Homo sapiens: one gene and its partners. The protein of the gene in region 2 interacts with the protein of the main gene of each other region in a pairwise test. Each region holds a gene or a part of one and is shown on either strand. Other genes may lie near its edges.

The links.
Region 1: the proteins of TCL1B (region 2) and ZNF330 interact in binary tests that used the Homo sapiens proteins (3 or more experiments, as listed by UniProt).
Region 3: the proteins of TCL1B (region 2) and GLRX3 interact in binary tests that used the Homo sapiens proteins (3 or more experiments, as listed by UniProt).

What each region holds. Positions count from the first base shown.
Region 1 is NC_000004.12:141,233,020-141,235,329, forward strand, and holds the end of ZNF330 (zinc finger protein 330), read left to right. Parts: intron 1-695; coding exon 696-970; 3' UTR 971-1,678; downstream 1,679-2,310.
Region 2 is NC_000014.9:95,689,363-95,693,120, forward strand, and holds the end of TCL1B (T-cell leukemia/lymphoma protein 1B), read left to right. Parts: intron 1-1,373; coding exon 1,374-1,544; intron 1,545-1,905; coding exon 1,906-1,959; 3' UTR 1,960-1,974; intron 1,975-2,568; 3' UTR 2,569-3,266; downstream 3,267-3,758. UniProt on the Homo sapiens protein: Enhances the phosphorylation and activation of AKT1 and AKT2.
Region 3 is NC_000010.11:130,160,367-130,164,024, reverse strand, and holds part of GLRX3 (glutaredoxin-3), read right to left. Parts: intron 3,230-3,658; coding exon 3,028-3,229; intron 1-3,027. UniProt on the Homo sapiens protein: Together with BOLA2, acts as a cytosolic iron-sulfur (Fe-S) cluster assembly factor that facilitates [2Fe-2S] cluster insertion into a subset of cytosolic proteins.

The DNA of each region.
Region 1 (2,310 bases), on a different chromosome or scaffold from region 2:
TATCTTAGGTGTGTGATATTTGAGCACCTATGTTTATTTATGTAATATAGCACTACTATAGGAAATTATTTTATGGTTTTTATGTAACTTTTTTTGTGAAGGAATAAGCATGCTTATAGTAATGCAGCTCGCAATTTTGTTAAAGAGAAGTTTGACTCTTAACCAAACATATCAGAATGGAACCATAATTCTAAGTGACTGACTGCTTTGTTTAATCACAGATGTAGTTGCATGGTGAGGTGAGACTGATGATTTTGCTGATCTTCTGCACTGAACTTTGTGTCACTATTAAGGCAGAAGAAATGACAGGCTTTGTTTTTAAGGGCATCTGCATTGTAAAATAGCTGTCTTAAGAAAAATGTACTGATACGAAATCAGCTGTATTCTGTGATTTATGTGATTTGAAAATAAACTGTCAGTGGCCAAACGGAAGGTATTTTTGTTTTAAACATGCCTTAATACCTTTGGAGTGGTCTGTTGGTCTAATTTGTTTTCTAGATTTAATGAAATTACACTGTAATTTTTATTTTTTATGGTGTTGTATATAGACTCAGGTGAAAAAATTAGGAAAATGTGACCTATTTTTTCATTTGGGATTGAAGCAGCCAATGAAATCCATGAAATTTTATAGAGGAAGATGAGAATGTAGAGAACTGGAACTAACAAAATGCCTTGTACTTGTCTGTCTTCTATAGCACGCTCCCTGAAATTTGGCAGGCAGACTGGAGGTGAAGAGGGAGATGGAGCTTCTGGGTATGATGCTTATTGGAAGAACCTTTCATCTGATAAGTATGGTGATACCAGCTACCACGATGAGGAGGAGGATGAGTATGAAGCAGAGGATGATGAAGAGGAAGAAGATGAAGGCAGAAAGGATTCAGATACTGAGTCATCAGATTTGTTTACTAATTTGAATTTAGGAAGGACCTATGCTAGTGGCTATGCTCACTATGAGGAACAAGAGAACTAGGGGAGCTGCTCTGGTGGCCGTGTGTGAGAGGAGCAGGAGTGAGTGTGTGTGCTTGATGAATTGTGTGTGGTTGTTCAAAAGTACCTTAGCCACTTAGCCTTGTGCAGAAGACTAGTTACACTTAATGGGCCAAGCAATAGGGTGTAGCGTTTTTATAGAACTGATAATCAGGCTTATGGCATAAGAAAAATGAGTTTCAAATTTAAGATGTTTATTGATCGAAGCAATTGAAGTATCATGGATTGGATTGTTACTGATTTCAGTAAAGTATGTTTTGCCAATTAGATACATATATACAAGATAAAGGAATAGGATGGTAATATATTTGTTTGAAATTAAATTACTGTTTTTATTAAAAAATACTGCTTCATTGGGCTGATTTTGTAAAATGTAATGAGTAAAATGAATTACTGTATTTTTCCTTTTATGTCCACAGAATGAGAGTCATATGTTGTTATATTCTAAATTTTCATTAAATATTCATGTCACCTTGAGTTGTCATGATAAGTATGTTTTAGTATTTGACTTATTCTTCTCTTTCTTCACAATGTATGTCCTCAGTGGTACCTATTATTGATGCCTTAAATGTATTGATAAGGTGACTAGTTAGCCATTTTTCAGAGATACAGTATCAGAAATAGTATTATTACAGAAGCTTTACCCAGGACATTTTATTTCTCTTTGAATAAATCTATTATTTCACTTAAATACTTTTGACATTATATTTAATTTTTTGTTCTGTATTTTCAGTTTGTTTTGGAAAGCATTCTAATTTTTTTACAAACTGCTTCAGTTTTCACACATATGGAAATAGGTAATAGAGACTGTGTGGTATACACTTAAAGATAAGCAGCCCAGACCCCATCATTGATAGGTGGAGGACAGTCCTGTCACAAGTCCCAGTTGTTACAACTTAACACTGGCATTTAATAGGGATTGGGTAGTTGTACAAGGAGAGACAATATCTGATTGCCTCACATTTTAGATGTATGGAGAAAATTGTAGCTATGAGGATAACAGGGTTGAATGGCCATTGTTAAGCCATTTTTGTTCTATAGAAGCATACTTAACAGCCAAGGACAATAACAGGCAATGGAAAGCCAGGTGTCAAAGTTAGAGGGCCTCTGGTGGCATGTGAAAAAGCTTTTCACCTTTTGCAGTAGGACGGCTTGAAAAAACTGAGGAGCAAGCCCGAGACTTAATAGTTTCAAAGGATAAAATTTAAAGACAGTTGCCAGCCAAGGCAAGTCTATTATGCCAGCATCGGCAAACTGCTTGGGAAAACCTGTGACCCTGACAAATTAGATGGAGACATCTGAATCGATGGTGCTGGAGATTTT
Region 2 (3,758 bases):
TTCTTCAAATAACTTAGCCACGGGTGGGATAAGGGACCTACTTAGTAAGTATTTTTTCCCCTTCTTTCTTAAAAATAGATCGATGTCTTAGGGTGGGAATTAGGCTTCCTGGGCGACACATCTAATGCAAAGATCAGCCACCTTTTTCTGTAAAGGATCTGATGGTAAACATTTTCCACTTGGAGAGCTATGCTCTTGCAGCTACTCAGCTCTGCTATTGCAGTGCAAAAGCAGCTAAAGGCAACGGTAAAGGAATGAGGGAAGGAGCCTTAGTTTATTTACAATAAAGCTTTATTTGCAAAAGCAGATGCAAGCCAGACTTAGTTTGCTGATCTCTGATCTACAGTCAGAATACACAGAGAAGGAGAGATTTTGCCGTATAATTTAAAATACTTCTCTTTGCAAAAGCAGTCCATAAAAAAAGTGAGGACGACAAACTGAGAAAAATTATTCACAACATGTCTGATTGATAGAGCACTAATATTCTTAATTCAAAAAGACATTTTATCACAAAAGAAGACAAATACTTAGAAAATTGTGCAAAAGACTTTCCATTTTGTTGCATAACGTAGGAAGCTTTGGTTTTACTTTTCCTATCATCTTTCTAACTTCCAGTACCAGCCTAATTTTGTTATTTTTATTATTATGTATTTATTTTGAGACAGAGTCTTGCTCTGTCTCCCAGGCTGGAGTGCAGTGACCTGACGATAGCTTACAACAGCCTCTACCTCCCAGGTTCAAGAAATCTTCTCACCTTAGCTTCCCGAGTAGCTGGGACTGTAGGCACATGCCACCATGGCCAGCTAATTTTTTATTTTTTGTAGAGACAGAGTCTCATTATGTTGCCGAGGCTGGTCTTGAACTCGTGGCTTCAAGCAGTCCTCCTGCCTTGGCCTCCCAAAGTGTTGGGATTACAGGCATAAGCCACTGCTCCCAGCCTTATTTCGTATATTTACTATAAGTGTGTGAAGGTCATGATCAGAACTGCCATATATTTTGGCGGGAAAATCTATCACCCTCAGATCCAGAGTCCATGGATATCTTGTTTTTAAAACGAAGATTTAAAAAATTACGGCAATGGCAGAGATGGAGCCCCAAGAGAATACTCAGCTTTAACCCAAGGTGTTGACAGGTTGGAAACAGTGGCTAAATTTGGGGATTGCAGTGGGGCGAGGCAGGGTGCAGGTCAGAGGGGGCCAGAAGGGCCCCAGCCATCCTAGATGGAGCCACAAGTACCAGTGCCAAGGCTCTTGGTCTGGAATTCTGAAAACATTTACCTCTGACCCTGGCAGCCCACTGGCCATTGCTTGTGTGCAGCCCAGTTGGCAGGGAACCCTATCCATGATTTGCCGCCTCTTTTCTGGTCCCTTCAGTATGAACCCAGCATCACAGTGCACTTGTGGCAGATGGCAGTGCATACCCGGGAGCTACTCTCCTCCGGCCAGATGCCCTTCTCCCAGCTGCCCGCCGTGTGGCAGCTCTACCCCGGGAGGAAGTACCGAGCAGCGGATTCCAGTTTCTGGGAAATAGCAGACCATGGCCAGGCAAGTGTGTGGTGGTTCTAGGTGAAAGCGACAGGTGGCCCCTGGTGACTGCCGTGGCCCTCTCTCTTCTGTGCCCCTGGCCCCCTTGGGGTTCTTGTCTGTCCTCTTCCTGTTGCTCAAGTCTTCCTTCAAGGAGGCCTGAGTGTGTGTGGGTGGATCGGTGCATGAGTTCCCATGTGGGATGCAGGCAGAGTGGGTGAGGGAGGGAGGGTTGCCTTCCCTGGGCTAGGGAAATCCACAAGCTGGAGTTCCCACCTGCCTCACCCCTGCCTGCTGCTGCTGCCAGCCTGCATGGGCGGCCGTTAAGGCCAACTGGAAGAGCATCTCCCAGAGGTTCTGATGGCTGCTCCCTCTCCTGCAGATTGACTCTATGGAGCAGCTGGTCCTAACATATCAGCCGGAGAGGAAAGACTGACACTGGGAGTGGCTGGTATGTTGGGGCCCTGTGCGTCTCAGTGTAGGGATCAGACGAAAGTGAGAAGACCTCTCCTCTTTTCAGAAAGACGGCGTGGCCTCCTCCTCCCTGCTGTTTGCTGAGATTTTTCTTACATAGCCACCTGTCACCTCTGTTCCCCAGCCCCTTGGATGTGATGGTACACAGTGGGTGGGCCCCCATAATAAGTTCCTAAAGCATGGGATCTCATCGAATAAGACTCATCATTTAATCCTTGTGAGAATTTTGTGAGGTGTACGTGTTAATGTCCCATTTCACGACGAAAAGACAAGACTCTGGGGATGGGAATGACTTCCTCGAGACCATACAGCCAGGAAATAGCGGTGAATCTAGTGATCTCGGGTCCCTAGATTTAACCATGGCACTGAGGTGCCGTGTGACGGTGGCCTTGGAGGACCCAGCACTGACCCATAGAGGGCTCCTCTCAGATGGGCAGCAGCTTGGAGCAGGCCAGGCAGGGCCTGGGCCATTGGAGGGGCTGGCACTGGACTTGCCTTTGACCCCAGCAGCTTGGATGGGGTGCCGGGCTCCCCCATAGTTCACTGACTGTCTCCTTTGGTCTTCTCGCAGGCCCTGCTGGCCCTGCCTCTTCTGGCCTGGTGTCTCCTCATGCCCCCTCAGTGAGGATCTTCATGTACCTGCTCTTCTGTTTGCACACCCAGCATAGCCTCCTTGCAGGCAGAAGGCAGTAGGGCCCCTGCACACTCAGTTTCTCTCGTTTTCCTTAGTTATCAGTCCTGTCCTGTCCCACTCAGGTCTGTACTTAGGGCAGCTGGCCTGGATGGGCTTCACTGGGGCCCTGTCTGTGTGCTGAGCCAGTTTCCCCTGCTGGCTGCAAGCTGTGGGTTCTTTCTCCTCTGTGCCCCTCATGCTGATCTTCTAGATGCCACTCCCAAATCCCCTTCATACCCACCAGGATGTGTGCCCAGCCAGGCCTCCAGCACCCCCAGTGCAGCTCGTGATTGGAAACTCACCATCGGCAGGCAGTGGTTCGGTTTAAGAGATGGCATTAGAGGGAGCCCAGTCTGGATGTGGACTTGGATGCCCTGTGGGTATCAGTTCTGCTGACACTTTGGCCCGAAATAGATCCAGTGCTGAGCAAGCAATGTACACCAGAGCCTCAGTGAGCCCATCTGCACAGTGGGGAGCATGGAGGGATGGGTTTGGCCTGTGCTTCTGCTTATTCAGTCCTTCAGCTCACGGAAGGGATGCTAGTCCGTGAAGGTGACCTCACAGTACTGGTTAATTAAACTTTATTGCTCACTGTCCACTTTTGTGCTGAATTGGAGCCTCTCTTTGACCTCTTTCTAGCATAGAAATGGCAGCTTCTGGTACCGAAATGTTAAGGTAACATTTTAATGATCCATTTCATATTTTTCCACACTGGGAAGGAAATTGTGATTGGTCCATTCAGCAGCAGGACGTCGGCGGGAGTTAAGGAAGGGGAGGAGACTCGTGCGGGCTCTGGGTGAAGCCCTGCTGTGAAAGGGCAGGAAAGCCCGTAGTGGTCACAGGAGAACCGGGAGCAAGGGAGAGCTCCCAAAGCGAGACAATGCAACAGCATGTCATTGCAGGAGATGCAGAATGCAGGTGCAAGGGAGGAAGGGCCCATGTGTGGGAGAGTATGACATGACAGAGGAGCAGAGTCCTTGAGCAGGGAGGGATGAGGCAGGGGGCCAAGGCACTGAGCAGTGCCACCATTGTGACCAGGAAGAAGAGGACGATACAGTGCAGGTCAGGGTGACCATGCAGTGGTGGCA
Region 3 (3,658 bases), on a different chromosome or scaffold from region 2:
TGTTATTCATTCATGTTTTTCTGATTAGCAGAAAGCAAGGTGGGGACAAACTAATCAAAAAACAAACATCAAAATACTCCGCAGTGGGAGTTCAGTGGTGTTAGCAGAGATAGCACTTTCAAAGCTAATTTGGTGCAAAATAAGGAAAGAGCAGCCACGTGCGTGTTCACAAGATGAGATGGCCAGTGCTTTTATAAAGGGAGCTTTGCCTACGCCCTTCTCTAAAATGCCAGAAGAAGAGCAAAAACAATGCTCCACTAACCAGGCTCAGAAAGGAACAGCAGAGGGTCGAGGTGACTTATGTTCCCATAAGAAAACAGTTTAAAAATATTTTCCAATTAATCCTAAGTATTTTATTAAAGAACAGCAACATTCTTAAATGATCTATTTACTATATGTGACAGAAAGACATGAAACAGAAAATATCAGGAAACAGAAAAACCCACTGAAAATGTAGTTATAAAAATTATATAGAAGTACTTTAAAAGAAGAAACTGTAACCATTCAACCATATGTATCTCAAAATATTTATTGTCTTTTATTAATTAAATAACTATAATACTACGTTTTCAGATGGCTCTGAAATGTGTTTTGTTTTGTTTTGAGACAGAGTTTCACTCTGTCACCCATACTGGAGTGCAGTGGCTCGATCTCGGCTCACTGCAACCTCTGCCTCCCAGGTTCAAGCAATTCTCCTGCCTCAGCCTCCCAAGTGGCTGGAATTACAGGACTCCACCATGCCCAGCTAATTTTTGTATTTTTAGTAGAGACGGGGTTTCGCCATGTTGGCCAGGCTGGTCTCGAACTCCTGATCTCAAGCGATCCGCCCACCTCAGCCTCCCAATGTGCTGGGATTACAGGCATGAGCCACCACGCCCAGCCCTGAAATATTTCAAAGCTTCTTTTTTATTCTGTTATTTGTACAGTCTTCCAAATCTCACTCCATTATAATAAACATAATTTAAATAAGTTTAATATAAATATAAAAATGCTAGCAGTATATTTTAAATTCAGTTTAATAAAGTAAAAGGTAAGCAGAAAAATTAAAATGTCTAAGTTTCTCTCTAATTTACTTGAATAATCATACAATATCTACACTGAAAAGGCCCTCCAAGATTGGCTCCAACAGCCAATCTTGTTCCCAACAGCACTAGAAGGAATTAAAGGCACAAGGAGGGTACCTGACTTGTCCCCAAAGTTGCTAAGGCCGCAGGGGTGGGCCTGAGGCTCGCCTGGCATGACACCCAGTGCAGCACACTTCCCAGGACATCCTTCTCCTCTGAGCACTCCTTCCCCAAGCTTCAGTGTTGCCACCTGCCTTTTCATTAGGTTTATCATTCAGAAAAGACTGAGACTGCTGCTGTTCAACCCCAAAGGAGAGAATACTGTAGAGATTTCACTGTAGGTGTGCTTCACCCACATTTCACAGCCAGTTCTACTGTACCTGAGATCTGAATGAAGGTGCTGAATACAATCCATTCAACTGAAGTGGTAAGTTCCCATTTAGTGGCCACCGCACAAAGTACAAGAAATAATTTTCATGTTTCATGGAAGAAGGTGAATGTGAACCATTTGCAACCCCCGTTAAAAACAAAATAACAAACGCAACAGAGACTATCTGTTGCTACCTTTAGTTTAGTACAGACTAAGTTAGCTTTGCAATACACAAATAGCAGGCATTATCTGACACATAAATACTGGCAGGGAAATTTTTTAGGCAGAACTAAGAGATACTTTTAAGACAGAATTCATGGTGGCTCACGCCTATAATCCCAGCAGCACTTTGGGAGGCCAAGGCAGGCGGATCACCTGAGGTCAGGAGTTTGACACCAGCCTGACCAACATGGACAAACCCTATCTCTACTAAAAATACAAAAAAATTAGCCGGGCATGGTGGTGGACACCTGTAATCCCAGCTACTCGGGAGGCTGAGACAGGAGAATCGCTTGACCCCTAGTAGACAGAGGTTCCGTCGCACTGAGATCGTGCCATTGCACTCCAACCTGGGCAACAAGAGCGAAATTCCATCTCGAAAAAATAAGAATTCATCATGAAACTTTATTTTTAAAACTAGACATTATCATAAGCTAATATGTAATTTAATAACCCTACAGGGAAGAATTTAGAATCAAATTCACACTAGAAGCTTGGCTATCTTTATAAAGTCACTCTGGACATGCTGTAATCATATCAAGAGCATACTCAATGTTACTGCCCCTATCTTAATAAAGTCCCTCCTGTGTAGTTGATACAAATACTCTTAGAGTCTCAACAGCATCATCAAATGGCATTAAATGCTCAATTATGCAGCATACTAATGTTGTACTAGGCACAGTAAAAAGAAAATAACATAAACCCACTACCAGAGGGGTCAAATAACTCTAAAACTTACTTAAGGACAAAATTATAAGCATCCATGTGTACAGAAAATAAGAGTGACTACAAGCCAAGAATTCGGAATCTTTCCATTACCAGCAGCTATAAACTGGAAATGACAGCAATGCAGGAAGAGAATCATTAGACAGTGATGACACAGGGGAGGCAAAAGCACACAGGCTGGACACAAAAACACTGAAAAATTCCGCAAATTTTTTAATTGCTGAATCTGAACTAGGTGAAAAACAGGAGGCTGCCAAGAAAGAAAAAATAACTGTTAACAGCAAAAGTAGATAAACAGGCAAAAGAGACAGCAATATGGTAGTTGGAACCTAATCCTAACTCTGCTTACCAGGTGACCTTGGGCAAGTCACCTCTATCTTTGAGTCTGAGGACTTCAGTATAAAACAAAAATCTGAATTAGATGAGTTCTGAGACCCCTTTTGGTTCCAACATGCTGAGTCCATAATGCAAACTAATTCTTATATAGTGTCATTGGGAATTATAACCTTTTTGATTTTCTAAAAGTATGTGAACACAAGTATAAGATGTATGGTATAGCATCCTTGGAAACAGGATGCCCATCTCAACCATACCCCATTCTGGGAAAGCACCCATTTTGTTTATATTATGTTAAAGGCAGCTTCTTACCACAGCGTGGTTCTTGAGGAGTTCCTTTCATAAACAGCATGCAGGGGGCAGCATGAGTCAATTTCTTCAAGCGAAGGTTGAGATCTTCTTTAAGATGTTCATTAGCGCTGGGTAGGAAGGAGCCACTAGATGCATGTCGCTGAACTTTTTTGGTCAACTCTGGGGCATGTGCACCATCTAATCGGTCGATTTTCTGAGAATTCTAAAGTTTAAAAAGTTATTTAGAATACATGCAGCATTCCATAATAATGACATTGTTATAGCAGATTTTTAAAGGGGACAACAGTATTACCGGAGATGTAAAAAAAGAAACCCTCATTGCCAATTGCCTGCACTGCATCTCAATTTTAGAAATACATAATTTTTTTCTTTTCTCAGAAACACACTGAGAAAACACTGCAACATCTCAAAGTCAAATCAGGTCAGTCTAACATAATACAAAAAAGACTGCCCCCACATTGGCTGGAATGAATCTATTACTAAGTATAAATGAGGTATTTGGGGAACTACGATGACACCCATGGGTGCCTGGAAGCACAGGTGTGCACCTGCTTCCTAAAAGTCATTCATCAAACCAGAACCAGCCAGAGATTCCATTATGTCCAGGCACATGCTCTAAACAACCAATTTA